Regions from separate parts of the Homo sapiens genome. Here region 1 is linked to region 2. Evidence: fine-mapped expression QTL. A gene starts in region 2. The other region holds a variant in brackets. All regions are shown on one strand. Distances are from middle to middle. Region 1 overlaps CHST15 (carbohydrate sulfotransferase 15). Region 2 holds the start of CHST15 (carbohydrate sulfotransferase 15).

Region 1 (2,903 bases), 56 kb after region 2:
AGGAAGGCATCGGGGCCAGGTGTGGCCTCTGGCACCTAGAGCCACTCCGTGGGAGCCTGAATCACACCCCTGCTCACTTGGAGTGTTTTCTGTTTCCAGGGGAGGCCAGTGCCTCCACGATGTGGGATAATAATGCCTGGACGTTCTTCTACGACAACAGCACGGATGGCGAGCCACCGTTTCTGACGCAGGACTTCATCCACGCCTTTCAGCCAAATGCCAGACTGATTGTCATGCTCAGGGACCCTGTGGAGAGGTGAGCAGTTTCTGTGTGTTGTATTTGGGGTGAGAAGAGGAACTTTTGAAGAACAGTGTTCCCCTCTCATGACAAATAAGATTTTGTCTCCTTTAGAAAAAATTAAACAGGTCGGGTACAGTGGCTCATGCCTGTAATCCCAGCACTTTGGGAGGCCGGGGTGGGTGGATCGCCTGAGGTCAGGAGTTCAAGACCAGCCTGGCCAACATGGTGAAACCCCATCTCTACTAAAAATACAAAAATTACCAGATGTGGTGGCACACTCCTATAGTCCCAGCTACTCGGGAGGCTGAGGCAGGAGAATCGCTTGAATCCAGGAGGCGGAGGCTGCAGTGGGCCAAGATGGTGCAACTGCACTCCAGCCTGGGTGTCAGAGTGAGACTCCATCTCAAAAAAAAAAATAAAATAAAATAAAAACAAACAAAAATAAACGGAACTTGCAACGTTACTGCTGTTTCTTACGTAAGTGTTATTCTTGAGGCTGTCCCCACTGAGTTGACACATGTTGCAGATGGTTTTCTTAACCATTCTGATCCTGGTCTGTGTGACTTCAGCCCCAGCAGGCCTGACCAGGGGCACAGGACGGTTCCTTGGTACTGTCAAGGCGAGGGAAACACCCTTAGAATCAGGGGTGTAAGCTTCTCCACGTGGTTTAACTCCTAGAATTCTGTGTCTCTCCACGTGGTTGATGCCTTTATCCTTGTCTGCGTTGAATGTACAGTTTCCAGCTTTCCTTGAGAGACCAAAAGGAAGAACAATGCTGAGCAGAGCAGCTTTGCTTTAAGATCAAGGGTTTCCCAGTGTGGGTGAGGCCAGGGTAGTGGGATATTGAACAGCCACTATGGGGCGGCCTGGCTGGCACTGGGCACTGCTTGCATCATTTATGCCTGTGTGAATGCAGAATCTCAGGGCTGCCAGGACCTGAAAATTATTTGGTCCAGTGCTCCCTCCAATACTTCCACATCAGAGCTAAGGGGGCACCTGTCTAATCCGAGGCCCTCTGAGTCAGGGAATTCTCCGCGCAAGATGGCCAGTGTAGCTTAGGACAGCTGTGTTCCTATTTTGAGACCAGGTCTGTTTTGGGGAAACATCCACTC[A/G]TTGGTCCTCTTTCTTCTCCATAGAGTCAGACAGACCAAGTCTAATCCTTCCAAAACAGGAGAGGCTGGCGATATTTAAAGACAGGGACCACAGCCCTTTGTGTCTTATTTTCCTTTGGGCCAACTACATCTTCTTATGGATTGAATTGTGCCCCCCAAAAAGATAAGCTGAAGTTGTCTCCCCCAGTGTGTATGACTGTGACCTTATTTGGAAATAGGATCTTTCTTTGCAGATGCACTCCGGTTAAAATGAGGTCATACTGGATCAGGGTAGACCCTCACCCACCCTAAGACACAGGGAGCATGCCTCTTGACGAGGCTGGAGTGATGCTGCCACCAGCCAAGGGGTGCCAAGGAGTGCCGGCAGCCACCAGAAGCCAGGAGAGGAGTGGAACAGATTCTCCCCTGGCATCCCAGAGGAACCACCTCTGCCCCACACCTGGGTTTCAGACTCCAGCTTCCAGGACACTGAGGGAAGAAAGTCCTGTCATTACGCACCACGAGTTCGTGGTGATTTGTCCTGGCAGCCCCGGGAAACTGACCCCTGGGACCCCTTCTTCAGGTGGCATACCTTCCTGGCCCCACGTATTTGCCAATTATAACAATAAGGCGTGTTTGTTGTGGAAATTTTGGAACATATATTGGAAAACTGTTTTCAAACTATTAATTTCTCACCTAGATAACTACTATTTATGTTTTGGTGTATTTTCTTCCAGACTTTTCTATGCAAATAAGTGTGTGTGTGTGTGTGTGTGCACATGGGTGTGACAGGACAGTCTTATGTCCTGCTTCTTTCACTTTGCATTGTTGCCCCCCAGAAACATGCTTTAAAGTCTGCTCTGGTCACACTTCTGAGCTGATGTCCCTCTTGTGGAGTCTGCATGGCTCCCGCTGCTCTGAGTATGACCTGGTCAGGGAGAGGCTGGATCTGCCCTCCCTCAGCCCCAGCGCTCTGAGCCTGAGCTCTTGGTGGCTGTCCCGGTGCCATGCCTTCTAGCAGGTGCCAGGTGTGGTTTCGCTCCCTGCTCTCTGCATCTCCCAGCCCAGGACTTCTTCCACTCTGTTCTGAGGCAGGCACTGACTTGCCGTCCCTTGCCATGTCCCACCTGCTGGTTCCCGTGTTTTGGAGGCAGAAATCGGCCCTGCTGAGTGGTCTCCCTCCATCCAGCAGGGCTGACGCACACTAGCCGAGCTCTCATGGTGACATAACTGTCACCTCGAGCTGACCCCTCGCCGCCCCCGGAGGTGTTTGCATAGCTGCTCTGCCTCCCTCCCCGACACGGCCCCCAGCTGAAGGGCGCAAGTGCTCGGTGTGCTCATCAAATGTTTTCCTGTCGCTGCTGCTTAGTTCCTCATTCTGAGAAAGGTCAGACCACGCCTTAACCTCAGGGGCCGAGAGTGCACACAGCAGCCTTGTGTACTGTCTGGGCACAGAGAGGTGGGGGCCCATCTGTCGGGACTGGGTTTGGTGTGTGTCAGCCCTGCTCTGGGCCCTGGGAGACTGGAGCTCCCAGTGGGGACGTGGGCATGGCTGTGGTTGGTTGCAGTTC
Region 2 (2,903 bases):
GCGAGATGAAGCCTCCGGCAATAAAGAGATAATGGGGAGAAGCCACTGTCAGGAATGACCCTTCGGTGGCATGTAGTCTACAGTTAACGGAGCACTTTCATTTCCACTTCTGGTTGCTTCGAGGAAGAGGGTGCTGGACTCTGGCCACGGGGACACAGGCCGGCAAGAGACTGCAGATTCTTTTTGTCCCTTGGACCTCAGTTTCCTGAGAGGCTGGGCTTGGTGCTCCAAGCGCCCTCTGAGCGAATCTGCCAGAATTTCATGTGTCTTTTCTTTAACTGATGGCATCTTCAGCCCAGAGTCAGTGGAGTCGGCCACTGGTGCCGCTTTCTTGCCCTCGGGCTGTCCAGGTGGTTCCCTGGGGCAGCCGACTCCAGGCCACTGCGGCAGGCCGTGGCGATCGGGGTCCTGCAGAGCTTTACCTCCCCCGCGGAAGCAAAACACGCCGGGCCAAAGAGCCGGGCCAGCCTTCCCGGGATGCAAAAATACAACAGAGGGCGCCGAACTCACCAGCGCTGTGGCCTTGAATATTAATGTACGGGCTGGCTCCAGACCGCCAAGTTCCTTAAAGATGTCTCTGGCGGCCGGGCGCGGTGGCTTACGCCTGTAATCCCAGCACTTTGGGTTGGGGGGGCGGACGGATCATCTGAGGTCGGGAGTTCGAGACCAGCCTGACCAACATGGAGAAACCCCGTCTGTACTAAAAATATAAAATTAGCCTATTTTGCGTGGTGGCGCATGCCTGTAATCCCGGCTACTCGGGAGGCTGAGGCAGGAGACTCTCTTGAACCCGGGAGGCTGAGGCAGGAGACTCTCTTGAACCCGGGAGGCGGAAGTTGCAGTGAGCCGAGATCGCGCCATTGCATTCCAGCCTGGGCAACAAGAGCGAAACTCTGTCTTTAAAAAAAAGAAGTATCTGGCAAGGTGTCACTGCCAGATTTCAGGGGTTTCGATGTGCTTTTATTTGGAATCACCGCAACACACAAGCAGTGTTGACTCGGAGGGGGAGGGGGCAGGGGCCAAACCCACCGCTCGGCGCACACGCCTTGATCTCACATTCCAGACTGGAGCTGATGTGTGTCAGCGCGACATGGGGCGGGGGGAGGGTTCTCCTCGGATGTTTCATTCGCCGTCTGCACGTCACTCCCAAACTTTTCCTCCCAGCGCTCGGGGAGTCAGGTTGACGCGCCCTGGATGCGGGGCTAGAGGCTCGGGGCTGGGCGCGCTCCCGCGGAGCCGGAGCCGCAGAGGCTCCCGGGCTGGACTCAGGCTTCTCAGGTACAAGTTAGGTGCCAGACGCCGAGGTGGGGTCGGCGAGGAGCGGCGGTAGGAGGTCTGGCCCTGGGCTCGGGGCTCCGGCGCCCCTCCGCGGGTTCGGGCCAGGCAGCGCCGGCGGCGGCCGGGGCTGGGCGTAGGGAGTCCGGGCCGGCGGAGGCGGCGCGCAGCCTCACTCCCCGCGGCGCTCCCGGCGCGGTGGTGGCGGTGGCGGTGGCGGCGGCGGCCCAGGCAGACAATGAACTTGCGAGCTCGACGAGCCGAGGCAGGTTTGGGCCCCGGGCTCCTTGGCCCGGCCTCCCCGAGGCTTCAGCGATCCCCAGCGGGAGGAGTCCCTTCGCCATTGGTCCTGGCCGCGCTCCGGGCGCCCTGCGCGCTTGAGGACCCCGCGGGAAGGGTTACCCAGCGGCGACACACGCCCCCTCCCTCGCAGAGAGGACGCGGCCGGAGCGAGGGGACAGGGGACCGAGCAGTGGCGTGGTGGCGCCGTGGATAGCCGGAGGCCGGCGGGGGGCGCAAGCCGCGTGGAACGCACCGGCGGGCTGTCCGGGAGAAGGAGCCCAGTAGTCGGAATCGGGGCGCCCCTGCACCGCCCAGCTCTGGGAGCCGCAGGCGGGGGACCGACCGACGGACAGACCAGTGCTTTCACGGTGTGAGCGCGCGTCGTTTGGCGGTAGGGGACGGGGATTCCCCCCAGCCTTGCGCTCCGCCCCCACACCCCTATCGCACTTTGGGGAAGTTTCCAGGCGCGGCCCGGGGCAGGTAAGTGGGCATCCGCCACTCTCTCCCCGGTTGCGAGCTCGGATGCGCTTCCAGAACCCTGGCTCTAGCCTTGCGGCGGTTCCGGGCGGGGAGGCCAGAGCTCTCCCGCGCCTAAGCCCGTGGGACCCGGTTCAGGGAAGGGGGATGGCGGGGGCGGGCCTGGGAAGAGATAGGGGAGCGGCTGAGCCCCGAGCGGTGTGAACTTTTGCTCCCCGCCCCCTCCTCCTTCCTCCTCCCCGCCCCGCCCCCACTGCTGTCCCCTCCCTGCGCCCCGCCGCGTCTCGGGAGGCGGCGTGACTCGGGAGTTGCCGGCGCTTCCCGGCGGTGGCGGCGTCTCTGGCCGGCCTTGGTGCGGCGAGCCGAGCGAGGCAGCTCTGAGCCGCGCGGTGAGGCCAGAGGCGGGGAGCCGGGGCTGCGGGGCGGCGAAGCTGGGGAGCCGGATGGCAGCGGCCGGGGCGCGGAGGCGACGCTGGCGGTGGAGATGTAATGCGAGTCTGTTGGGTTGTGTGTGCCGGGAGATAGGACGCGGTGGCTGTGGGTGGCTGGGTGGCGGGCTGTGGCGCAATTGGCCCCCTGGGATGGCAGGATAGAGGCGCCGGGGCGAAGGGAACCTTGCCTTTGGGAAAATGAATGAAGAGCCGTGGAAGCACCTTCCCGACTCCTCCAGGCAACCGATGGGCCGGCGTGCGCGCGAGTGTGTGCGTGTTGAGGCTTCGGAGCCGCCCGGGTCCTGGGCACAGCTGCTTGACCTCCCCGTCGCTGTCCGGGTGCCCACGTTCCCGCCCGCCCTGCGCCCGGGGCCGGCCGGCGCGGCTGGGACGGCGGGTATAGAGGAGGAAGGCTGGGGCTGGGTTGCCGGCTGCTGG

The links. PIP is the estimated chance that this variant, and not a neighbour inherited with it, causes the effect.
Region 1: its variant is fine-mapped to the expression of CHST15 in whole blood (TOPMed, PIP above 0.99).

Annotation. Positions count from the first base shown.
Region 1 is chr10:124,035,868-124,038,770 of GRCh38, reverse strand. CHST15 (carbohydrate sulfotransferase 15) reads left to right here. Exons shown (of 8, transcript NM_001270764.2): 5 at 100-256. Among named protein-coding and RNA genes, the nearest start is that of CHST15, 56 kb to the left of the region's middle. RefSeq lists a silencer at 2,551-2,600. The variant A/G (reference allele first, on the strand shown) is at 1,354.
Region 2 is chr10:124,091,844-124,094,746 of GRCh38, reverse strand. It overlaps CHST15 (carbohydrate sulfotransferase 15), which reads left to right and starts at 1,149. Exons shown (of 8, transcript NM_001270764.2): 1 at 1,149-1,278.